7 linked regions of the Homo sapiens genome follow. The protein of the gene in region 1 purifies or fractionates together with the protein of each later gene. This does not show direct contact. Each region holds a gene or a part of one and is shown in the gene's direction. Other genes may lie near its edges.

Region 1 (3,500 bases):
TTGTAGTGTAATGGAGTCAGCCTGAGTTTGGATCCCTGTTCTGCCTGGACTTGGACAAGTTAATTTACTCATCTGTAAAGTGAAAATTGTTGTGGAGGTTAAATGGGACAAGTGAAGATTTTAGAACAGGACCTGGCATATGTATATAGGTAAGGAGTTATTAAAAATTGAGTCCTTATTATATATATGCAATTGAAATTTGAAATTAAATAGAACTGTTTGATTTAGGATCTTTTTTTTTGTGGGAGACCACAGTTTTATTATTACTCAAATTAGTCTCCTGATTTAGGGTCTTCATATTGTCTCTGAATTTTCCTGCTTCTTATCAGAAGTTTTGTTTCCTTTAGGTGACTAAATTCAATACTTGCATGTATTAAATTGTTTAATGCAAAGTAGGTGTTTTGTTTGTGATGAGAGGTTTTGTGTGGTATTATATTAATTTACTTAATTTTTCTAATAAGTGACAAAAAAGTCCACTTGCTGTATCCATTTTCTGGGAAGTCCCTGACAAGGCAGATATCTTAGTTTGAAGTAAAATAAAAATTGTAGTCTGATGTCACTAATTAAAACTGTTTACTTTTCTTTTTTTTTGAGACAGAATCTAGCTCTGTCACCCAGGCTGGAGTGCCATGCTGTGATCTTGGCTCACTGCAGTCTCTGCCTCCCAGGCTCAAGGGATTCTCCTGCTTCAGCCTCCTGAGTAACTGGGGTTACAGGTGTGTGCCACCACGCCTGGCTATTTTTGTATTTTTAGTAGACACGGGGTTTCACCATGTTGGTGTGGTGGTCTCAAACTTCTGACCTCAAGTGATCTGCCCTCCTCGGCTTCCCAAAGTGCTGGGATTACAGGCGTGAGCCACCTTGCCCAGCCAAAACCATTTTCATTAGGCACAGAGTATTGCAAAGATTGTAATTATCTTGTATTTTCTTTTTTTTTTTTTTTTGAGACGAGTCTCGCCCTGTCACCCAGGCTGAAGTGCAATGGTGCGATTTCGGCTCACTGCAACCTCCGCCTGCCAGGTTCAAGCAATTCTCCTGCCTCAGCCTCTGGAGTAGCACGCACCATTATTCCTGGCTAAGTTTTTATATCTTTAGTAGGGACGGGGTTTCACCATGTTGGCCAGGCTGGTCTTGAAGTCCTGACCTTGTGATCTGCCTGCCTCAGATTCCCAAAGTGTTGGGATTACAGGCTTGAGCCACCACGCCCAGCTAGCTTGTATTTAAAAAAAAAAAAAATTATTTGTAGCTATTTAGCTTATCTTCATGGTTGTAATATATTTTTAAAAGATTCTTCTGTGTTGGGAAGTTTGGTTTCAAGTCTTGCTGACACATACCATTTACTGTCAGAAACAGGATGATAGGATGCCTTTTCTATCTATAGATATTTCAGTTTGCTTGATTTTGCATATCTTTTTCTTAGTGTGATTTAAGAAACAAACTCTTACTCCCAATTTTCAAACATGTTACCTGAGAAAAAGTGTGATAGTATCTTGTAGGTAACTTTTAGTGAGTTTAACTACTGTGAGCTTTTATTGAGTTTTCTTTTTTTTTTTTTAAGACAGTGTCACTCTGTTGCCCAGGCTGGAGTGCAATGGCACGATCTTGGCTCACTGCAACCTCCGCCCCGCTCTGGGATTCAAGTGATTCTCCTGCTTCAGGCTCCCAGCTCTTTTTTTTTTTTTTTTTTTGAGACAGAGTCTTGCTCTGTCGCCCAAGCTGGAGTGTAGTGGCGCGATCTCGGCTCACTGCAAGCTCTGCCTCCCGGGTTCACGCCATTCTCCTGCCTCAGCCTCCCAAGTAGCTGGGACTACAGGTGCCCACCACCACGCCCCGCTAATTTTTTGTATTCTTAGTAGAGATGGGGTTTCACCATGTTAGCCGGGATGGTCTCAATCTCCTGACCTTGTGATCCGCCCACCTCGGCCTCCCAAAGTGCTGGGGTTACAGGCGTGAGCCACCACGCCCGGCTGCTCCCAGCTAATTTTTGTATTTTTTCGGTAGAGACAGGGTTTCGCCATATTCCCCAGGCTGGTCTCCAACTCCTGGACTGAAGCAGAACCCCTGCCTTGGCCTCCAAAGCACTGAGATTACAGGCGTGAGCCACGGTGCTTGGACCTGAATCTAGTTTCAATAATCTGAATTTAACATCCAAATCTAAGACATTATTGGTTGTATTTTATAAGCCTATGCCATTCAGCAGCGAAGTTTACCCTATCCAATCAGTCCAAGTCCTCTAGCCATTTAAAGTACTTTTCTAGCTGAAGAATTAAAAACCTGCTCCCTGGGAGAATAAGATTCCAGAACCTTAAAACTGATGATGGACTGCATTTGATATTTATAGTTAAAGATCCAGTGAAACTATTTGAGAAAGGAGATTTTATAATCTGAACACTGCTAAGGATAATGTGAAGAAAAGGGAGTTGAACAGAACTGAAGTCAAGAAAACTAGTAGGAAGAAAAGAGCTTTGTATAGAAGGAAGGAAGGATATATAGGAATGACAAGGAGTTGGCCATACTGAAAAGATGCCTCTGGTTATTCCTGTGAAAAGGTTTATAAGAAAAGAATGTCGTTAATTACAAGTGAGTTCTGAGTTAGTGTTATAGAATAGCCTTCCCCCACCCCAGCTGTTTCTGAGTTAGTGTTATAGAATAGCCTTCCCCCACCCCAGCTGTTTCTGAGTTAGTGTTATAGAGTAGCCTGCCCCCACCCCAGCTGCCTTTCATTAATCCTTTTTTTTGAGATGGAGTCTCGCTCAGTCGCCCAGGCTGGAGTGCAGTGATGTGATCTCGGCTCACTGCAACCTCTGCCTCCTGGGTTCAAGCAATTCTCCCTCCCTCAGCCTCTCAAGTAGCTGGGATTACAGGTGCCTGCCACCACGCCTGGCTAATTTTTGCATTTTTTAATGGAGACAGGGTTTCGCCATGTTGGCCAGGCTTGTCTTGAACTCCTGACCTCAGGTGACCTGTCTGCCTCAGCCTCCCAAAGTGCTGGGATTACAGGCATGAGCCACTGCGCCCAGCTCATTAATCCTTCAACTCAGGTTAAATATAATTTGAAAAGCTAATGTATTCACAATACCTTATACGTTGAATGTTCCTGATATGTATGTAGTATTGAATTCTAATCCCCAGATTGAATTTTTAATTAGTCTAAATCTCAGTGGCATTTTTGACATGTTTTGCCAAATGAAGAACCCTTCTTTCTTGGAGAGAGAATACCCAGTGGATTTAGCCAGTTCACATTCTAAAATTCACTCCTTTAATCCTTGAACTTAAATTTATTATTTATGATTATGAAGTGTGGACTTTGCTTTAGGGCCACAGAGTATTTTTTAAGATTAATTTTTTTTTTTTTGAGACGGAGTCTTGCTCTGTAGCCCAGGCTGGAGTGCAGTGGTGTGATCTGGGCTCACTGCAACCTCCGTCTCCCAGGTTCAAGTGATTCTCCTGCCTCAGCCTCCTGGGTAGCTGGGATTACAGGCGGACACCACCTGCCAGCT
Region 2 (3,500 bases), on another chromosome or scaffold:
GACTGGTCTCAAACTCCTGGCCTCAAGTGATCTGCCCACCGCGGCCTCCCAAAGTGCTGGGATTACAGGTGTGAGCCATGGTGCCCGGCCTTTGATCCTAGTTTTCTCATGGCTTATTCAAAGGCTCCCTTGGCAGAGCTTGCTCTTCCCCTCCGTTCATTGCATAGTGCACAGGTAATATGGAGGGGATTTGCCCCTGTCTCAGTTTTGTGAGGTGGTGTTTGTATTGGAATCTTGGTTCTGCCACTTACTAGCTGGGTGGGGGTAAGTGAATTATCCCATTTCTGCCTCTCCTTCATCATCTGTACTGACCTGCAGTCATAGTACATCTGTACCCATCGGGTTGTTGTGAGGTTGGTTTTTCTATTCTTGTATGACAAACTTAGCAGCTTAAACCGGCATCCATTTATTATCTCATAGTTATGTATGCAGAAGTCCAGGCATTACAAGATTAAAATCAAGGTGTTGGTAGCTTTGCTCTTATCTGGAGACTCTAGGGAAGAAGCTGCTTCCAGGTTTATTTAGGTTGCTGGCAGAATCCAGTTCCTTGGAGTTGTAGAACTAAGGTCTTTGTTTCCTTGCTGGCTGTCAGCTGGGGACTACTCTGTAACTTAAGGTCCACTAACTTAGGACTCTAATTGGATGTGCAAAATGCCGTCATAGCAGTACCTAGATGAGTATTTGATTGAACAAACAGGGGTCGGGAATCTTGGGCTGCTATCTTTAGAATTCTGCCTACCACTGAGGATTAAATGAGGAGATATATAGAGAGCATTTAGAGCGAGTCCTGGTATATAACAAATGCTGTACAAGCATTACCGAGGATTCAGTACTACAAACTTGGCTCTGAAGCTGGCCACTATGGGCTGCAGGAGAACAGTATTTCTTTTTTTCTTTTTTTTTTTTTTGAGATGGAGTCTTGCTCAGCCTTCTAGGCTGGAGTGCAGTGGTGTGACTCAGCTCACTGCAACCACCTCTCCTGGGTTCAAGTGATTCTCGGGTCTCAGCCTCCTGAGTAGCTGGGATTATAGGCACCCACCATCATGCCCGGCTAATTTTTGTATTTTGGTAGAGACGGGTTTTCACCATGTTAGCCAGGCTGGTCTTGAACTCCTGACCTCAGGTGATCCTCCTGCCTCAGCCTCCCAAAGTACTAGGATTACAGGTGGGAGCCACCATGCCCGGCTGAGAACAGCATTTCTATAAAAGATGGGAATTGCTGGCCAGGCGTGTTGGCTCACACCTGTAATCCCAGCACTTTGGGAGGCTGAGGCGGATAGTTCGCTTGAGTCTGGGAGTTCAAGAGCAGTCTAAGCAACATGATGAAACCCCCATCTTTACAAAAAGTACAAAAATTAGCTGGGCTTGTTGATGTTTGCCTGTAGTTCCCGCTAGTTGGGAGGCTGACGCAGGAGGATCACTTGAGCTCAGGAGTTTGAGGTTGCAATGAGCTATGATCGCACCACTGTACTGCAGCCTGAGTGAGCAAGCAAGAGCCTGTCTCTAATCAATAAGTAAGACATGAGAATTGGCAATGTAATGTGTGTTGCGAATTGGTAATGTAATGTGTGATATTCTCCTGGGCATTGTGAAACTATGTAATATTTTGTTAGGGCCAGGTGCAGTGGCTCACACCTGTAACCCCAACACTTAGGAGGCCAAGGCAGGAGGATCAGTGGAGGCCAGGATCCTGGGCATCACAGCCTGACAAACTAGCCTGGGCAACATAGCGAGACCCTGTCTCAAAAAAGAAGAAAATTAGCCAGGCATAGTGGCACGTGCCTGTACTCAGGAGACTGACGTGGGAGGATTGCTTGAACCCAGGAGTTTGAGGTTGCAGTGAGCTATGATCGTGCTGCTGCATGCCAGCCTGGGCAACAGAACAAGACCCTGTCTCTAAAAAAATAATATAAAAAGATTCTGCTGTGTTACAGATGTTGAGATTTTGTCTTTGTTTTTCCACAGTGGTTTGCTAAGAAGGCCATTTTCAACTCTCCACTGGAGGCTGCTATGGCGTTCCCTCACCTGCAGCAGCCCAGCTTTCTACTGGTAAATATCAACTGCTTGCATGAGTGTCAGTGTGGCCATAGTTCTGTAGATGTGGGACTTGAGTGTTCTTCCCATTGACTTGAAGAACTCTGTAGTGGTTGTTTTTTAGGGGCATGTGATGGAAACAATGGCAGACTCCTTAACTTGACTGTGCCTCCTTATTACTACAGGACCTTGGGGTTACTCAACTTCTGGGCTCTGGGTTTTCTCACACAAGTTCATTCAAATTCTATTTTCTCTACTTCCCAAGGGTGTGAGGAGGAGGAAGAGCAAGTGAGAAGGATGTATATCAGAATGTTCATGACTTGTAAATTCTTAAATAGATATGAAGTATTCTAATAATCAGTCATAACTGTCATCAGTGAAAAATGGAGACACTGTTGTGCGGGGGCCTGCTAGGTTGCACTTTAAGTATTAAACATGATGCTGAGAACTGGGTGCAGTGGCTCATGCCTGGAGTTCCAGCTACTGAGGAGACTGAGGCAGGAGGATTACTTGAGCCCAAGAGTTTGAGACCAGCCTGGGCAACATAGTAAAGACTCAAAAAGGAAAAAAAAATGATACTGAGAAGTGAGAAGTTAGATATGAGGCAAGTATTGGTGATGAAAGTTCCTAATTTTAGTTCTTAGGAGGTGTTTTTGTAAACATTTATGTGGAAGGACATTCTTCCTCAGTGCACCCCACTAGAGTCAACAGGTCTGGCCCATGGCCAGATAGCTCAGGTCTCCATCTCTGTCTCAATCACTGTGAAATCCACCCTTGTTTGGAGGTAGACAAGGCCTTAGATATCCTTTGGCAAAGCTCTCTAGGTTGAAATTCTAGCCGTTTCTCCTGATCTTAATCCATTCGCACAGATGCCCTTTTTCTCCTTGTAGTCAGGGTGCTTTCCTCACATCCCACGACTAGGTAGATTTCATTAGTCCTTGTCCTGAGTCTTTTCTGGCCTCTCCATTGCCTTCATGATTAGTGTCTACTTGGCTGAAGCCATCTATAATTTTTGTCTGCCCTGTGTTTTAAGATCATTGGTTTAGTGGTTCAGTGTCTACCGAATAAAGGACAGCTCATTTAAGAGAGCTTCTGCCATAGCCGTGATGTTGTTGGGCGTTCTTACTGATGATCACAATGGTGTAATCACGGTGGTCCATCAGGCTGGAAATTTCCAGTTGATGCGTACAAACTCAGTTATACTCTGTGGTTTGTGAGGGGTGCCCTTACACAGTCAAGATCCTCTTCTGGCTGTGGGGCTGACTCTGGGACCAACCCCTACTTATGGATTGGTGGAAGTCAATCCTGTTCTGATCATGTGCAGCACTCTGAGGGGGTACTGGGAAACAAGGCTGATAGTTCCTGGTCCAGAGAGCATAGAACTACGGCCTCTCCTAGTAGTACTCTTTGGGCCACTGACACACATGAGGGGCTGGGGAACCAGGCCAGAGGTTATGGGTCTGACT
Region 3 (3,500 bases), on another chromosome or scaffold:
GATGTGCAGAGACCCCACCCAGCTGGAAGGTTTCCTGTAGCTCATTGAATCCTACCCTCTGGGAATCACAAAGTGGGCAGAAACTCCTCTCAAAGCACTCAGGCAGCACTGGCACAAAAAAAAAAAAAAAAAAACTAGACCCTAGGGCTTCACCCCAGGCAGTGATGCATTATGGTTAGGACCACTGACTTTCCGACATGGGTTCAAGTCCTTGCTCTGCCACTTTCTAGCTGCTGGGCAAGTCACTTAATCCCGCAGTTTGGATTATCAACTTCTTAAAATGGCGGCAGCCAGAGCAGCGTCACCCTCTCTGGGCTGTGTGAGGATGAGATGAGATAATGGCCTGGCAGCATTTGAGGGAGGTGGCTGTGGTTTCCTCTGTCCTGGGACCCCGGAGGGGGACAGGGAGGAGAGAAAAGCCAGCACCAAACTGGGAGGGGAAGTGTGGACCCACGCTCAGACAGTGTCTGTCTTTTGCAGACACGAGGGCCGCTGCCTCCCGCCGCGTTCCTGGCGCCCGCTCCTGCCAAGGTGCCTGCGGGCCGAGCCCTCCTGACCAGAAAACCCGACCAGGTGGCTCCGCGCCCGGGGCGCCCTCTGTGCTGCCAGCGCGGGCTCCTCAGCGGTGGCCACATCCTCGGGGGAGGGGCTGGGCGCCATTGGCTGCCCGGGGCTGCGGGTTGGGGGGCCGCCTTTGGCCCACAGAGAGCCCCGGGCGCGCACCTCCCGCAAATGCCGCTGTCCGCTCTTCCTCCCGCCCCTCCTGCCTCTCCACTGGATGGTGGAGGGAAGAGTCCGTTTCTGCAGTGGATTTGCCCGGGAGCTGAACTTATTCACTGGCGGACGGCTTGGGCATGGAGGAGGGCTTGGATGGAGACTGGGGATTGTTCTCTGACCCACGTAGTCTCCCTTGCTTTCGGTGCAGATTCTGCTATTATAATTAGCTTTCTGCGGGGCAAGGTGGCTCACGCCTGTCAGAAGATCGAGACCATCCTGGCTAACACGGTGAAACCCCGTCTCTACTAAAATACAAAAAATTAGCCTTGCGCGGTGGCGCGCGCCTGTAGTCCCAGCTACTCAGGAGGCTGAGGCAGAGGAATCGCTTGAACCCGGGAGGCAGAGGTTGCAATTAGCCAAGATCCACCACTGCACTCCAGACTGGCGACAAAGGGAGACTCCGTCTCAAAATAACAATAACAATAATTAGCTTTCTTTTCTTTTTCTTTTTTTTTTTTTTTTTGAGATCAAGTATCACTCTGTCGCCCAGACTGGAGGCGGCAGTGGCACGATCTTGGCTCACTGCCACCTCCGCCTCCCAGGTTCAAGTGATTCTCCTGCCTCAGCCTCCTGAGTAGCTGAGATTACAGGCTACTGTTGGCAAGGCTGGTCTCTTAACTCCTGACCTCAAGTGATCCGCCCGCCTTGGCCTCCCACAGTGCTAGGATTACAGGTGTGAGCCACCGCACCCAGCCCTTCTTGCCCTCTCCACCAAGATTCATTTCACAGTATCCAGTGTCTCCTTGTTTCCCTTTCTCCCCTTTCACGTGAATAATGTGCTCAGTTCTTAATCTCCACAAAAATCCTGTGAGAGAGGTACTTTTGTTGTCCCCATTTCACAGATGACAAAACTTAGAAAGTTCATACTAACAGTCTGTGGCAGAGCAGGGGCTTCTGCACAGGTTTGTCTGATCCCAGAGCCTGTGACCTCTCCTCGCTGTCGTCATCCTCTACACTCAGGGTCTATCTTCTTCACCCTTCAGTCTCACACAGGTCCCACAGCACAGAACCCGGCTTGGTGCTGACACTAGGCCAGGGCGACGTGGGCCAGCTGGGGCTGGGTGAGAATGTGATGGAGAGGAAGAAGCCGGCCCTGGTATCCATTCCGGAGGATGTTGTGCAGGCTGAGGCTGGGGGCATGCACACCGTGTGTCTAAGCAAAAGTGGCCAGGTAGGTGTTGGGGACTGGCACAGGGTTGGACAAGGCCTGGGGTTGGGTGGCTTGGGGCAGGGCTTTTGAACCACGCATGTTCACTGTGGAAATGGAGCTGGCTAGTCAAGTGGGGAGTGGCCTACATGAGAATGGACTGCGAGGCCAGACGTTGCATTAATGAGGGCATCCTGGGCACAGGTCTATTCCTTCGGCTGCAATGATGAGGGTGCCCTGGGAAGGGACACATCAGTGGAGGGCTCGGAGATGGTCCCTGGGAAAGTGGAGCTGCAAGAGAAGGTGGTACAGGTGTCAGCAGGAGACAGTCACACAGCAGCCCTCACCGATGATGGCCGTGTCTTCCTCTGGGGCTCCTTCCGGGTAAGGCTGGGTCTGAAAGTCTGCATGGTCCCTGAAAGACAGAATTAATTGGCGGGGCCCCAAAGATAATCCACTTCCATGCCCCCATGGTACTTACTGGTGGGGAGATGAAAGCCCACAGGTAGAGCTGAGGCCCAGACCCAGGACTCTAGCTTCCTCATGTGGGCCTGTCCACGCCACTGGCTGCTTCCTTGAATCCGATGTCATCAAGTGTCTGTCCTGGGAAGTGAGTGGGTCAAGGATGTCCCTGGGTTGAGGCTGATCCAGGAGGCCTGCTGTCTTCACCCATCTCCCTGACTTCTGTCTCCCCCTCACCTTGCCAGCACTGCCTCTTCCACACTTCCCAGAGGCTTGGATGGGGCAAGGAGGTGTGGAGGCAGGGATTGTCGCATCTCAGAGTTTCCAAGGTACAGAGGAGTGTAGTTGAAAAAACAGATTGTGGGTTTTTGTTGTTGTTGTTGTTGTTGTTTTTGTATTGTTTTGAGATGGAGTTTCACTCTTGTTGCCCAGGCTGGAGTGCAATAGCGCAATCTTGGCTCACTGCAACCTCTGCCTCCCAAGTTTAAGTGATTCTCCTGCCTCAGCCTCCCAAGTAGCTGGGATTACAGGCATGCGCCACCACGCCTGGCTAATTTTGTATTTTTAGTAGAGACGGGGTTTCCCCTGTTGGTCAGGCTGGTCTCGAACTCCCGACCCCAGGTGATCCACCCGCCTCAGCCTCCCAAAGTGCTAGGATTACAGGCGTGGGCCACCACACCCGGCCTGATGGGTGTTTCCTTATCACATCTATTTTGAAATTTTCATGGAGAATTTCAAACACATGAAAGTAATCAGAATTGGGCTGGGCGCGGTGGCTCATGCCTGTAATCCCAGCACTTTGGGATGCCAAGATGGGCAGATCACGACGTCAGGAGATCGAGACCATACTGGCTAACATGGTGAAACCCCGTCTCTACTAAAAATACAAAAAATTAGCCAAGCGTGGTGGCGGGTGCCTGTAGTCCCAGCTACTCGGGAGGCTGAGGCAGGAGAATGGCTTGAACCCGGGAGGCGGAGCTTGCAGTGAGCCAAGATCGCGCCACTGCACTCCAGCCTAGGGGACAGAGCGAGACTCCATCTCAAAAAAAAAAAAAGAAGTCCGGGCGCAGTAGCTCATGCTTGTAATCCCAGCACTTTGGGAGGCCGAAGCAGG
Region 4 (3,500 bases), about 16 Mb from region 1:
GATCGAGGTCTGAGCTGGACATATAAATTTGGAAACTGTCAGCATATCAATGATATTTAAAGGCATGGGAGTGGATAGTGAGTATAGATAGAGAATGCTGTTAAAATCTGGAGAGATGAGGAGGACCTGCCAGTGAGGTAAGAAAGAGTGGTCTCCTGGAAGCTAACTGAAGAAAGCCTATTAAGGAAAAGGGAGTAATCAGTTGTATCAGATGCTGTTTGATGGGTCAAGAAAATGAAGATAAAGAATTGACTTAGCAACATGAAGTTACTTGTGATCTTGAGGATAGCAATTTCGATGGAATGGTGGGAATGAAAGCCTGATTGCAATGGGCTTAGGAGAGAAATTGGCCACGATGAATACACTAGAGGTAATACTTTAGAGTTTTGCTGCGAAAGGCGGCAAGGAAAAAGGATAGTACCTGTTAGGGAAAGCAGAGTTCAGATTCTTTTAGTTTCGAAGAAATAATAGAGTTTGTGGTATGCCAATTGGAGTGATGCCATAGAGTACAAAGCTGATGGTGCAGAGGTGAGAAGGGAGGATTGCTGGAGGAATGTTCCTGAAACTGGGAGGATTTGGCGAGTCCAGGATTTGGTGAGGAGGGATGGGAATGTGATGCATATATGAAAGGGTTGCCTTAGGAGCAGGGCCATCCACCTCTGATCTTGTGGTGAGGTGGATGTAGGCAGGGTTGCATGAATATCTGTTCTTATAGAAGGTTAAGTGCTTATGCTTCTCACTGTGGAAAGTTGGAGGGCATCATTCTAGCTTTATATTAATAGATGGGAAAAATATATATACTGTGGTCTTTGGAGTTGTCCTGAATAAACAAACCTTTAAACACATTTTCTGAACCGGCATAAATTCCAAGGAGGTAGGTCTGTAGCAGATCCACTACGGTAGTGTAGAGAGGAGGAAGGGCACAGGTTATTTTTAAAAATTAGTGTTTGACTTTGGAATACTTAAAGAAAAATTTGGTTTCCATACTATATTTGATTACACTAAATTAAAATAAGCTTTCTTTGTGCACACTTCTGTAGGTGGCAGGAAAAATGCTACCTCTTTTTTTCCCTTTTTATTTTTATAGAAGCCAATGGTATGGATATATCACAGTTTAAGTATTGCCCCACTGATGAACATTCAATTTCATTCCTTCAAAAACTGTAGAGTCCTACCATGTAGCAGACATTGTACTAGGCCCTCTGGTTATATAGTTATGAACAAAACAGATGAATTCTTATGGTGCTCACAGTCTTATGTAGGGGTTATGATAATAAAAACAAAAGAAAACAGTGTATCAGGTTGTTTCATGATTTTTAAAAATAATGATGCTCTGTGAACTTCCTTGAGTAAATCTCACTGTATCACGGGTAGCTCAAACTCACTTTCCCAAAATTGAACTTAGCATCCATGAAACCAATCCTGCTGGGTCCAGTGGCATGTGCTTGTTGTCCTAGGCACTTAAGAGGCTAAGGCAGGAGGAGCACTTGAACTCAAAGTTCAAAGCCAGCTTGGGCAACCCTGTCTCAAAAACAAATAAACAAAAAACAACTCTTCAGGTACTCAGATCTCTGTGTTATTTCTTTTCTTTTTCTTTTTCTTTCTTTTCTTTTCTTTTTTTTTTTTTTTTTTTGAGACAGGATCTCAATATGTCGCCCAGGCTGGAGTGCTGGAGTGCAGTGGCATGATCACGGCTCACTGCAGCCTTGATCTGGGCCCAAGCCATCCTCCCACCTCAGCCTCCCTTGTAGCTGGGACCACAGGCAAATGTCATCTGGTTCGCTAAGGTGGATGTCTGCCTAGCTTAGCCCTCAAGCTTCTAGAATAGCCCCTTTCAACTAGGTTCCATGAGAATTAATTTCTTTTTTTTTTTTTTGAGACCGGAGTCTCGCTCTGTCACCCAGGCTGGAGTGCAGTGGCACAATCTTGGCTCACTGCAAGCTCCGCCTCCCGGGTTCACGCCATTCTCCTGCCTCAGCCTCCCCAGGAGCTGGGACTACAGGCGCCTGCCACCACGCCCGGCTAATTTTTTGTATTTTTTAGTAGAGACGGGATTTCACCGTGTTAGCTAGGATGGTCTTGATCTCCTGACCTTGTGATCTGCCCGCCTCGGCCTCCCAAAGTGCTGGGATTATAGGCATAAGCCACCGCGCCTGGCCAAGTTCTTTTTTTTTTTTTTTTTTTTGAGACGTAGTCTCGCTCTGTCACCCAGGCTGGAGTGCAGTGTTGTGATCTCGGCTCACCGCAACCTCCACCAATCGTTCAAGCGATTCTCCTCCTTGGCCTCCCAAGTAGCTGGATTACAGGCACATGCCACCATGCCTGGGTAATTTTTGTAGAAACAGGGTTTCACCATGTTGGTCAGGCTGGTCTTGAACTCCTGACCTCAAGTAATCTGCCCGCCTCAGCCTCCCAAAATGCTGGAATTACAGGCATAAGCCACCGTGCTCGCCCAGAATTAAGTTCTAATGCCCTTTTTTTTTTTTTTTTTTTGAGACGGAGTCTTACTCTATTGCCCAGGTTGGAGTGCAGTGGCGTGATCTCGGCTCACCGCAACCTCTGCCTCCCAGGTTCAGGCGATTCTCCTGACTCAGCCTCCCGAGTAGCTGGGATTGCAGGCATGTGCCACCACACCCAGCTAATTTTTGTATTTTTAGTAGAGACGGGATTTCACCATGTTGGTCAGGCTAGTCTCAAACTCCTGACCTTGTGATCTGCCCACCTCTGCCTCCCAAAGTGCTGGGATTACAGGCATAAGCCACTGCACCCGGTCCAGGTGAAACATTTCAAACATGGCTCAGTAAATATTGCCTGATTCTCCCAAGCAGTCTTCAACACTCACATATCTTCCACTCTCTCCCTTGTTTATGATTCTCAGCTCCAGCCAAAAGGGCCAGTTGGTTTCTTAGCCATGCTATGTACATATTTGAATTTTTGCCTTCCAGGAAGAGCATCCATTCCTCTCTGCTTGTTTGAGTCCCACCCTTAAAGTTAGTCAAGTCCAGCTTTTCCCCTAGAGGTTATTCCCACTTTTAGGTTATGTCCTCACTTCTGTTCATGCTGTCTGGCACATAATTCAGCTTTTGGCACAAGTGGTGCTCAGTGCTTGGTGGTGGTGTTGACAATTGAGGCTGGGGGCCAAGACAGGAAGTTCTTGGGACATTTGGGCTCCTGGGTATTGTCTTAAGGGTCTCTTTTCCCAACAGAGGTCCCCCCTATTGGAAGTAAAGGGGAACATAGAACTGAAGAGACCTCTGATTAAGGCCCCTTCCCAGCTGCCTCTCTCAGGAAGCAGACTCAAGAGGAGGCCTGACCAGATGGAAGATGGCCTGGAGCCTGAGAAGGTGAGCTGGGCATGGAGAGCTGTGCATGTGTGTGGGGGGTGTGTGTGTGTGAAAGAAAGGAGAGAGAGAGTATAAACCATTAGGGAGGGTGACTATGGACCTTGTCTTTATCTTTCCCCAGAAACGGACAAGAGGCCTGGGTGCAACGACCAAAAT
Region 5 (4,203 bases), on another chromosome or scaffold:
AGAACAGACCCACCTTTTCTTTATCATTTAGAGTTTGGCCCCATTGCTGTAAAGGTCATAAACAAGTTGAGTGTTGAGAAAGTGAAGTAGAGTTAGCATTTTGCAAGATTGCTGTCCAGCTATAAATTTAGAAACATACTGATTTCTTAGGATGGCAGTAGCTTTTATGGCAGCAGAGTCAGACCAAGTCCTGGGTTGATACATTTTTTGGTTTTAAAAAAACCTAGAAACGGCCACTTCTTAGCTTAAAACAGTGAAAGTGGTGAGCGTCCCACACTGTGAGCATTGCTTAGTTCCTCAGACTGACTGTCCTTGCCCTGGCGGCAGGTGCCCCTGACCTGACCCCACTTCGACCTCCAGGCCGGCTCAGCAGAGTGGCTCTTTGACTTTGGAAATTAAGAAAGAGCATAGAGAATCTTAGGCCATAAGCATTTCCTGGATGCTTGTTGAGCATTCCTCAAAAGAACGAGCTGTGCTTCGTCATTTTTTTTTTTTTTGAGAAATTTTATGAGGAATAGTATTTTTTAAAGAGCACATAGTAAACTTTGTAGCTGTTTATAAGGGCTGAAGGGAGATGGGGATCTGGGGAGTTTACCTGTGAGTGGCTTTAACATCAGCTATTTGAACTCAAGAGATTGGTATTTGCTTTTTAGGAACAGCAGTACCTCTTTTGTTAAGAGATTGATTGATTGAGAGTTTCGCTGTCTCCCCCAGGCTGGAGTGAAGTGGCACAATCTCAGCTCACTGCAACCTCTGCGTCCTAGGTTCAAGTAATTCTTGTGCCTCAGCCTTCAGAGTGGCTGGGATTACAGGCGCCGGTCACCATGCCCTGCCAAATTTTTTTTTTTTTTTTGTATTTTTAGTAGAGGTGGGGTTTTACCATGTTGACCAAGCTGGTCTCAAATTCCTGAGCTCAGGCAATCCACCCACCTTGGCCTCCCAAAGTGCTAGGATTACAGGCATGAGCCACCACACCCAGCCTGGGAAGAGATTTTTTTTAACGGAGAATGTTTAAGAGAATGTAAAATACAGAGTTCTTAATTTTTCCAGTTTTACATTTGAGGGTAGGGAGGAAATGTTAATTCTTAAGAGTAGGACCTGCCTATCCAGGTCCTTAATCCAAATACTCTGGAGCCTTCTCGGGACAGGGAACACCACATCTGCTTCTGAGAGCAGCCACAGTTGAGGAGGCTGGTGTTTATTCCAGTGCCCAGCAAAGTTTATTATTAACCGGAAGACACATTCAGTCCATTTTTAGCAAAAGAGGAGGTTTCAGGTTAAATGTTTGGGTGTCCTGCCCGCTGGTTTTCTTTATTAGTTTGCATCTTGATAGATGGCCAGATGAGGGTGGATGTGCCTGGGATGCATCTTTTTGTTTTGTTTTTATTTCGAGATAGGGTCTCTCTCTGTTGCCCAGGCTGGAGTGCAGGGCAGATAATAGCTCACTGCAGCCGAAAACTCATGGGCTCAAGCGATCCTCTCGCCTCAGCCTCCCGAATAGCTGGGATTACAGGGTGCGCCACCACACTCGGCCTGGGACACCTCTCTAGCAGAGTGGTGCAGCGTGTGCTCCTTAGATCGCACATTTTCATCTTTGTATGCTGCCTTGTAAGGAGACTGAAGGGGCTTCTAGACCCTGCTACTCAGGGAGGCCAGTGTGGGAAAAGATTCGGGTGTAAGTCTCAAGCTTGTGTGTCACATACACTCTGGAAAAGATGATTCTCTTACGGGAGTGGGCAGCAAACCTGGTCAGAGGAGCTTTGCCTTGAGCCAGTCTAGCCGTGGGGGAGTGGGGAGGGGCATGCTCTTCCCCTTGGCGTGGGAGTGAGCTGGGGAGTGGGAAGGGCCTGAACTGGACAGGCCCACACCGGTCCTCCTGCCCTTCATTAGCCACATGACACAGCACCTTGTTAGCCAGTTGGAAGGATTTTGGTGTCCTTTGTGCCACTGAGAAGTTTAAATGAGATAAAATACAGAAGAACAGCTTCTGTCTCCCTGGCCTCCTTGAGAGCCTGGTGCGTGCCAGCTCCTCCCTCTGAGTGCAGAGAATTTCACATTGCTAAGTGTCTTTCCATGTGGAATGATAGTGGCACATGAGGGAAAGACAGCTGTGGGAAGTGAGGCTTCCCAGCAGACAGGTGGCCCATGTGACCGTTGTGGTTGATGCTTTTCTCCTGGTAGAGGGGGTGGGGAGAATGCCATGCCCAGTGTGGCCAGTCCCCCACAGAGCAGGCCCCAGTGCAGCTCAGAGTTGTGTGCTGGTGTGGCTTGGGTACCATTCAGGGTCCCGCCTCCAGATTTGCAGGTGCTGCTAAGGGGCAGCCTCGGATCTCACTTTTGGGAGGGATTCATTGGTGTGGTTACTCTGCGTTCAACTTTTGTTTTTTCTTTTTACAGGAACGGCAGAGTCGAAACAAACAATGAGGGCGAACCAGTTTCTTACATGTTCTAACGTTTGACTTTGAAAACAGTTTAAAACACGTGTGCTTGGTCAGCTCCAGTGTGTCGTCCCGTGCGGGGGTTGAGTGTTGCATCTTTGCCTTTCTTGTCGTTGATTTTTGCCCAGATGGATCTGCATTTATTTGTACTTTTTCTATGTATTATAATCCTGTAGAAGTCACTAATAAAGGAGTATTTTTTTTGTCAGCTTATCAATCAGACTGATCTAATGTGAAATGTAAGTATCCTTAAAAACAAAGCATCTATTTTGGCAGAAATTGTGTTCTTAAATTCAGTCATTTGATATTCTGTGAGACTTCATATTTCTCATCCCTTTATTGCTTTTTAGCAAACATAAGAAACCATGAGTCATTTTGTCATTTAGAGTATTCTGATAAAATCTCTTGAAAATACTGAAATCAAAAGGTTAATGATTTTTTGTTCATTCTGATTTGTCATTTTATTATCTGTTATCGGTCTAAAGTGCTAATTTACCCATTTGATTTTTCTGCTAGACAGATAACTTTTAATTTTTCAAATTTGGCAGACACTTTTTTTTTTTTTTTGAAAATCTTTCCTTCCAGATCTGTTGCCCACTGAACAGCCACCCGTCCCTCACTGTCCTGGTGTCCGATTGGGCTGGATGGTGTTGGGGCATGATGTGTGGAGGAACTGGAAGGTGCTTTAGGTCTGGTTCAGGGTCGGGCATTCTTTGTTGTTTGCACATCTTTTTAAATTTTACACCTTTTCTTAAGAATTCTAATGCCGTCTTAAGTTTTTATACCAATAATGCTGAGCTTTAAGTGTAGGATCTGGTAGTACAGACAGTGTGATGGATGATGCTGCTGGTTGTAAATTTCATCGTGTGTGTCTAATTTTTTTTCCTGTTGAATGGGTAAAAACAAAACAAAACTTTTTTTAGAAGATGAATTTGCTGTCATGTTTTGTGGAATGAGGGACCGTTGAGCTCACTACCACCTGGAGTTTGAGTTGAAGCATGAAAATGGTGCCCATGCCTGACGCTCCAGCGCCTGGATCTGCACGTGCCCTTGTAGAGGATCCTTACCGTCCTAGAGAGCAGACGCTTTCTGAAAACTACTTGCTCCAAAAGACCCTCTGAGTTAACGTTTCAGCTGTATCATTAGACTTGTATTTAGAGCGTGTCACTTCCTCTGAACTGTTACTGCCTGAATGGAGTCCTGGACGACATTGGGTTTTTCCTCTAGGAGAATACAAGCCTTAATAAACAATACTATTTAGCAAACTTGGTGTCACCTCATTCTTCACCCTACTTGATGAGTTTATGTGTTGGAGCTTTTTAAGCTGCAGAGCCATTCGGGGAGTCACCGTAGAAAGCCCTGTGTTTCTCAAGGTGTGGGATTCTCGTTCCCTCGCTTTGGAAGAGGGAGCTGTTAATTTCCTTAAGACTATAAACTACATGGCACCGTCACCCACCCCTCATCACATGAATGTGCAGACGCAGCGGTGCGTGCAGCACCTGGGCACCGCTACCCCCTTTCTGGACTTGGCTCCTCACCGTCTCTCTCCATTCATCCTCCAATGCCTCTTATTATTTATGCAATAAGAGTTTAATACCTGTTTAGTTTGTTTTCCTTTTGAGGTAAAATTTATAAGCAGTGAAATGCACATTGTGTACATCTGCAGAAGTTGACAAGTATGTGATAAAGTTATGCAATATTAGCCTCAGCCCAGAAAATCCTGAGCTCAGGCAATCCGCCCGCCTTGGCCTCCCAAAGTACTAGG
Region 6 (3,500 bases), on another chromosome or scaffold:
CTGTCTCCAAGTACCTATTTGCTTTGCATGCTGATCTTCTTTTTTTTTTTTTTTGAGATGGAGTCTCACTCTGTTGCCCGGGTTCCAGTGATTCTCCTACCTCAGCCTCCCGAGTAGCTGGGATTACAGGTGCTAGCCACCACCCCGGCTAATTTTCATATTTTTAGTAGAGATGGGGTTTGATGTCGAACTCCTGACCTCAGGTGATCCACTCGCCTCAGCCTCCCAAAGTGCTGGGATTACAGGCGTGAGCTACTGCATCCATCCTGATCTTCTCCTTTGTCTCTCTCGATCTACTCTTTTTTCTGGGGGCAGGGGGCACTAAGTCTTGCTCTGTTGCCAGGCTGGAGTGCAACAGTGCAATGTCGGCTCACTGCAACCTCTGCCTCCTGGCTTCAAGCAATTCTCCTGCCTCAGCCTCCCAAGTAGCTGGGACTACAGGCATGTGCCACCATGCCCAGCTAATTTTTGTATTTTTAGTAGAGACCTGGTTTCACCCTTGTTGGCCAGGCAGATCTACTCTTGACTCTGCCACAGCAAGGTGGCCTTCCTGAATGGGCTCCCTTGCCCTCCGGCTTCTGCCAGGTCAGATGAATGTGAGGCCCTGCCATAAGGCCAGAAGTTGGAGTAGTTATTCTGCCAGCTTTCTTCCTTGCCTGTGCGCACTTTACATTGGCTGTGCCCCTCTGTCAGGGACTGTGCCTCCTGTCCAACTGCTTTCTCTGTGTTTCCAGTAGCTGCCCCCTCCTTGTGCCTCTTCAGGCCTGAGGTTGATAATGCCTCATCCTAGGGTGCTGCCCCATCCCTTTTTGGACCCCTTAATCTTGCCCACACCTTTGCAAACAGTACCTTCACTGAACTCCTCAGCTACCTCCTAGGATCCTGTTGCTACACCTTGCTTGTAGAATCAGATTTATTTTCAGAGAAAAAGTAAAGTCTGCTACAAACTTCAAAGACAGAAATGGTTAAGATGCTGGGCAGCCAGTGGCAGCTGGACATTGTGGAAATAGTGACGCAGTCCTCGTGCTTTTGTGAAGCTTCACAGCCTGATGAGGCAGCAAGGCAGACTTCGCTGTCTCCCTTTAAAGGTGTGACATTAGAACTTAGACCTGTTGTCTTAACTGAGACTGCAGAACTATCTGGTTTTAGAAACAGGGCCAGCTCTTCCCTGAGCTCTGTGAAATTTGGAATTCCTTATGCATTTGAGGAACTTCAAACTCTATTTGGTGTCTCAAATTTTGCTTCCTTCCTCCTATAGCCTAGCTGTATTCTAACATGTAGCACACTGTGCCGACAAGTCTCTTTTTCTTAATGTTTGATGTACTGTAACCTAAGTTTGATGTACTATAACCTAAATTCAGTCTTCCTGTTGATTCCATAAATGTGTTTAGTGTGAATTCTTTGCTTTTATGCATTTGGGTTAGTTCCTGGGGAATGGAAGGAAAAGCACTTTGTTATGTTTTGTTTTTAATCTAGACAGTATGCCAGAAATCTGAAAGAAAAACAAATCACCTCAAGTTTCATGATCTAACAAATCAAGTTGTTGTCATTTTTGTGTCCTTTTTGGTCTTTATTCATATATAATTTTATATGATAAGACAATTTTTTAAAATTAATTACAGACTACTTGTAAGAACTGAGCAAGAGCCTGGTTCATTATTCTGCATTTGGATCAAAGGGCAAAGTATAAGTGTCAATTTAGTGTATGTACATGTTTCAGTTAGCTGAATTATTGGAGAAGGGTCTGGAAATTATCAGTTGGATACATATAGAATAATATTTTAGGAATATGATACAGCAAAACTAAAAATGTGATTGGCTCCTCAAAAGAATGTTCCATATGAAAAATGGTAATGTTTAGGACTGTTCCTGTCACTATTTATCTTCATTTCTCATGATGTTCGTTGGTCTTTAGCTTCTCTGGGGTGTAGTTATAAAGGTTTTCTCCCGTGTCATAATGATCATGAAAAGAGAATACAATAGCTATATGCATATAGTAGTTTTTCTTTCTTTTTACCTGTCCTTCCACTTGGGGGTGACAAGTTACCTGTCTAAGGAGTATTTGTGTTTTGGGACGAGCTGGTTAACCAAAATCAATCTCTGATTGGTGGGCCATATAGAACGATATTTTGACTTGGCAGCCCTGATAGAAAGTAAAACAATACAGAGCTGCCTGAGGGTGCGCTCTCCACTTTGACTCTGTCTCCAGTTTGGGAAGGCCTTGTACCTCCCAGGGCTCTGGAAAAGCAGAGCTCACTGCTTAAGGAACAGACTATGTTGACACGGCATATGAGCAATATTTGAAATCACTGAATATATACATGATAAGAGAATTTAACAAGTGTTTTGGCATTTTATGTGCTTTTATGTTATTTTCTGTCTTTTATATTATATATGCTTTCCTTTTTTTTTTTTTTTGAGACTGAGTCTTGCTCTGTCGCCAGGCTGGAGTGCAGTGACACAATCTCTGCTCACCGCAGCCTCGGCCTCCTTGGTTCAAGCAATTCTCCTGCCTCAGCCTCCCAAGTAGCCGGGACTCCAGGTGCACGCCACGACGCCCAGCTAATTTTTGTATTTTTAGTGGAGACAGGGTTTCACCATGTTTTCCAGGATGGTCTTGATCTCTTGACCTTGTGATCCACCCACCTCCAAAGTGCTGGGATTGCAGGCATGAGCCACCGCACCCGGCCATTATATAGGCTTTCATTGTGTTTTTCATGTTAACAATGTAAAATATTCTTACACTTAAGCTTATAAATTAAATGTGCTAAAGATTTCTTGCCTGGGCTGTTAGGATGCCTTTGGCTAACATCAGAAATGCAAAAGGAAGAACAAGGTTTGCAAAAGGGAGGGATTTTGTTTGGGTCATGTTTTATCTGTGCCTATATAACTTGTTCCTTCAGCCAGTTTGTGAGGTCCTTGAGGGCAGCTAATCTGATTTTTCTTTCCTCTTATCTCTGAGTGTCCATTGCTATGCAAACTCTAAATAATGGGGGGAAAGCTTAAGTGCAGACTTGAACTTGAAACAGGAGTTTCAGTGCCTGATGGTATTTTTGCACTGTTATCTCCATGTATTAATTAATGACAAAGGAAGAGTTAGAAGTTATGTATTTAGTTCATTCTCTTATGTTGCTTACTTCTGTTCTACAAATGTTTCTGTTATGTCTGAAGAAGGGGAATTCCTCAAAGAAAGAAATTAGCAAGTTCACTTTTTGAGGTCATTATTTTAGTCTATTAGTTCATTAGTTTGGGGTATTACATTGTAAAGTGATGTCATCTGTAACCTAGTGCTATTTAAAGATGCACTGAGCAGAGTAGCTATAATAAAAAATATCATCGCTTAAAAATCTCAGTAACAATCCAGAATTTGCCTGTTTATAAGACTTATTTGGGCACTCTGACTTTTAAAAGTTAGGAGATGTGACTTTTCTTGATTTTTGAATTTATTTTTACCATCAACTGCCAATAAATTTTCCTCCATCTATAGGTCTGAGGATATG
Region 7 (3,500 bases), on another chromosome or scaffold:
TAAACCAATAATTTTTCTCCGTAATGACAGTTCTGAGAAGAGTCTAAAATGAAATTTTTTCTCTCTTGCAGACTTCAGTACATTAGAATTTAGTAATGTATAAAATATAGTAATATTATTTCCTGTCACCATGAATCAACAAGACATAACCATAGCCTTTTGACAGTCTGGTTAAATATTTAACACTGTGATTACTATAACTTTCAGGTTCTCTCTGATAAATAATTGTAAGGAAAATAAAGACAATTCTGATATTTCAAGGATTTGTTTTTTTAACTAGAGCCTAAACTCAAAAATTCAAAGAACTATTCTCCAGTAAAGGATGGAAAAAATCTGAATTGTATTGTGCCCCAGTATAGCTCAGAGACCTAACAGTTATGAGTGGGGGCTGAGGTACTGTTTGTAGGGGTATTGCTAATCTAGTGAAGGAGAATGATTCTAAAGATTATTTTTGCCAAATTCTTTATTCTTGCATGGAAATAATCATTGTTGCTTTGATATGCCATCTCTTTATTGCCCTTATACAGGGCCAACATGAAAGTAAAGAGTGGTTATGAGTTTTTAAGGGAGAATTTCTCTGTAAACCATTCTTGACATTGGGTTTATACTATTAGGAATGCTATTGTTTCTATATCCAGACTCCCTCACTCTTTTGCTTTTATACCAAATGTTAGATTTAGAGCTATTATACAGCATCTTGATCTTTCATTTTTTTATTCCAGTGACATTCCGTAATTAACATGAATATAAAGATGCAAAAAGAACAAACATTTTATCTCCAGATATTATAGTGCAAGGGAAGGTGCTTTCACTTATGGTAACATTTCAACATGGCTTCATATTAGAAACTGCAGTGATGCTTCAGATACAGAAATTAAACTTGGCAGTTCTCTGCAGCAGTGGTTCTCAAACCTTAGCATGCAATCAGGACTACATGGGGTGCTTGTTAAAACACAGAATTCCAAACCCATAGAGTTTCTGCTTCAGGAGGCCTGAGCTAGAGCCCAATAATCACATTGAGAACCACTATTCTAGCACTGGTTCACCCTTTTCTTCTGACATAGTTTTCTAAGTGTATAGAGTAATTTATAGTTCATAACCTTGATGCTCTGATACGGGATCATAAGTACAAATTCAACAAATATTTTCTTGATACATCTTTTTTATCACATGAAAGTTTGTTAAACCAAGAGTATTGTTGAGAGAGAAGTTAAAAGCAGCAGTTTAATTAAGTGAGCAGCAAAATGCTGAAGATGGGAATAATGTGCAAAAGAATACCTTATCACTTTATGTTGCCTCTCTTGGCTCAGAGACCTTGAATGTGAGCCTGCTTGTTATTGTCTAAAACTGAACAGTGTATCTGGATAAAATACATGAAGCAGCATATTCCCAGTGCTTTGTGTTTTCTGAAAATGCTTACTGTCAGTATGTTTTATTGAGTAAATTAATCCTTTTTTTCTACAGGTGATGGGCCCCAGTGTAGAGATTATGTCATAAGTCTTGGAGTTGTGAAACCTTTACTTTCCTTCATAAGTCCATCTATTCCTATAACATTCTTAAGAAATGTTACTTGGGTTATGGTCAACTTATGTCGCCACAAAGACCCACCACCACCAATGGAAACCATTCAGGAGGTAAACACTTTTAAAAAAAAATTAAAAGAGATACCATTATATATATATTTTTTATTTGTGTATGTTTTTAAATCTACATATTTCTCTCCTCAGATTCTTCCAGCCCTTTGTGTTTTAATTCATCACACAGATGTAAATGTGAGTAAATGTGTCCTATTATATATTTATGTATGTATGTATGTATTTCTAGGGCTTCCCCTGTGACATAGGGGAGAAATATTATACTAACACATTGTGTCAGCATACTATCAGATTTTCCCATTTCAAGAGTTATTTTATATTAGATTAGTTATTTTATAATATTTTAATATTTACTCTATGTTTATCTATATCACAAAATATAATACCAGTTAAGAAATCAAGCATAACTGTTATTTTGGTGTGGACAATATTGTATGTATGTGTATATATTAGTGTTATAAAAACTGACATTAAAAGTTTTTAAAGTTGCCAGATAGTGGTGATTTCTCTTACTAAGATCATGTCTTTAATTGTTCTTGTGCTTTTTACAGAAGGTCATTTTGACAGTTTGGCCAATGAAAGCACACACAAATAGTGCTATTTTTGTTTTTTGAAAGATGAAAAAGGAAAATGTTTGTGCATGGATTTGTATTCATATACACATACCAAACCATGGACATCAATTGCCCTTTAATTCCATTTTTATTCTATTTCTCAGTTACAGTGACTGGCAGTGGCTTCATTTATCAAGATAACTTGATTATCCAAACAACAGGAAAAAAAAATCAGTGCAGGCAAGATTTTAAACATAGCAAATATATTTTGCTTATTTTTACTAACACAGATGGCAGAGGAAAAAGCAACTCAGGGAGTATGAATGAGGTGGAAAACTGCCCTGAGTGCTTGTAAAAGCCAGACCAGCCTTTGGTGTGTTAGAGAAACCAGGAATATAATGGGTAAGGGAAAACACATGAATGAAATGTTTAGCAACAATCAGGAACTCATGTGGTTCTTTAAAAACAGTTTGGCATGGTGACCAGTGTTGGACAAGCTGCTTCATTTCTTTACAATTTAAAGGCCTATGCCTTTTGGCCAGAATTTAATTTGTATGGAACAAATTAAAATTAGAATTTTACTGTATCAAACAGTGACATAATATATAAAATTCATTAGATGAACATGATCTCTGTGGTAGAGTTTTTGTTTGTTTTTAGCCCCAGATAGTTTAGGATCTTAAAAAATGTGTAAGTAATTTTTGGTTTTGGCTCCTTAATAGCCAAGTTCTTTGATTAAATTGTGAATTTCAATATTTTGCTTTGAAAGATTTACAAGAGGCCAGGTGTGGTGGCTTATGCCTATTGTCCCAGCACTTTAGGAGGCTGAGGCAGGAGGATCACTTGAGTGCAGGAGTTCGAGACCAGCCTGGGCAACATGACGAAACCCTGTCTCTATGAAAAATACCAAAAAATTAGCCAGGCATAGTGATGTGCACCTGTAGTCTCAGCTACTCAGTGGCTGAGGCAGGAGGATCTCCTGAGCTGGGGAGGTCAAGGCTGCAGTGAACTGTGATCATGTCACTGCACTGCAGCCTGAGTGACAGAGCAAGACCCTGTCTCAAAAATAAATAAATAAATAAATAAATAAAACGATTGGCAAGAAAGATTTAACTTCAAAGTTTATACCTCTACTAGAAAACAAGACATCTTGGTTGACTTTATTTAGAGATAGATTGTGTTCTTTCCACCTATTTACTCCAATCTAGATGAGACTGTGACTCCATTTTCTTGCCTTTGATGTATCTTGAAGAATTTCTCAAGCCTGTTTACATTGTTCTTTTTAGTAACATGATTAACAAATAATATTGCTTACTAAATAATGTGTTAGAAGTTTGATTTGAATTATGAT

What was found.
Region 2: the proteins of NUP153 (region 1) and SMPD4 purify together in Homo sapiens (affinity purification with mass spectrometry; one large-scale study listed by BioGRID and IntAct). This does not show direct contact.
Region 3: the proteins of NUP153 (region 1) and RCC1 purify together in Homo sapiens (affinity purification with mass spectrometry; one large-scale study listed by BioGRID and IntAct). This does not show direct contact.
Region 4: the proteins of NUP153 (region 1) and KIFC1 purify together in Homo sapiens (affinity purification with mass spectrometry; 2 studies listed by BioGRID and IntAct, with this or other methods). This does not show direct contact.
Region 5: the proteins of NUP153 (region 1) and YTHDF1 fractionate together in Homo sapiens (co-fractionation; one large-scale study listed by BioGRID). This does not show direct contact.
Region 6: the proteins of NUP153 (region 1) and NUP133 purify together in Homo sapiens (co-immunoprecipitation; 3 studies listed by BioGRID and IntAct, with this or other methods). This does not show direct contact.
Region 7: the proteins of NUP153 (region 1) and KPNA4 purify together in Homo sapiens (affinity purification with mass spectrometry; 2 studies listed by BioGRID and IntAct, with this or other methods). This does not show direct contact.

What each region holds. Positions count from the first base shown.
Region 1 is NC_000006.12:17,696,926-17,700,425, reverse strand, and holds part of NUP153 (nuclear pore complex protein Nup153), read left to right. Parts: intron 1-3,500. UniProt on the Homo sapiens protein: Component of the nuclear pore complex (NPC), a complex required for the trafficking across the nuclear envelope. Functions as a scaffolding element in the nuclear phase of the NPC essential for normal nucleocytoplasmic transport of proteins and mRNAs.
Region 2 is NC_000002.12:130,175,103-130,178,602, reverse strand, and holds part of SMPD4 (sphingomyelin phosphodiesterase 4), read left to right. Parts: intron 1-1,965; coding exon of another isoform or gene 1,966-2,010; coding exon 2,011-2,049; intron 2,050-3,500. UniProt on the Homo sapiens protein: Catalyzes the hydrolysis of membrane sphingomyelin to form phosphorylcholine and ceramide. It has a relevant role in the homeostasis of membrane sphingolipids, thereby influencing membrane integrity, and endoplasmic reticulum organization and function.
Region 3 is NC_000001.11:28,530,043-28,533,542, forward strand, and holds part of RCC1 (regulator of chromosome condensation), read left to right. Parts: intron 1-480; coding exon of another isoform or gene 481-573; intron 574-1,760; coding exon 1,761-1,948; intron 1,949-2,128; coding exon 2,129-2,308; intron 2,309-3,500. UniProt on the Homo sapiens protein: Guanine-nucleotide releasing factor that promotes the exchange of Ran-bound GDP by GTP, and thereby plays an important role in RAN-mediated functions in nuclear import and mitosis.
Region 4 is NC_000006.12:33,394,823-33,398,322, forward strand, and holds part of KIFC1 (kinesin-like protein KIFC1), read left to right. Parts: intron 1-3,206; coding exon 3,207-3,344; intron 3,345-3,465; coding exon 3,466-3,500. UniProt on the Homo sapiens protein: Minus end-directed microtubule-dependent motor required for bipolar spindle formation. May contribute to movement of early endocytic vesicles. Regulates cilium formation and structure.
Region 5 is NC_000020.11:63,194,929-63,199,131, reverse strand, and holds the end of YTHDF1 (YTH domain-containing family protein 1), read left to right. Parts: intron 1-2,397; coding exon 2,398-2,424; 3' UTR 2,425-3,703; downstream 3,704-4,203.
Region 6 is NC_000001.11:229,466,842-229,470,341, reverse strand, and holds part of NUP133 (nuclear pore complex protein Nup133), read left to right. Parts: intron 1-3,500. UniProt on the Homo sapiens protein: Involved in poly(A)+ RNA transport. Involved in nephrogenesis.
Region 7 is NC_000003.12:160,524,072-160,527,571, reverse strand, and holds part of KPNA4 (importin subunit alpha-3), read left to right. Parts: intron 1-1,464; coding exon 1,465-1,634; intron 1,635-1,727; coding exon 1,728-1,772; intron 1,773-3,500. UniProt on the Homo sapiens protein: Functions in nuclear protein import as an adapter protein for nuclear receptor KPNB1. Binds specifically and directly to substrates containing either a simple or bipartite NLS motif.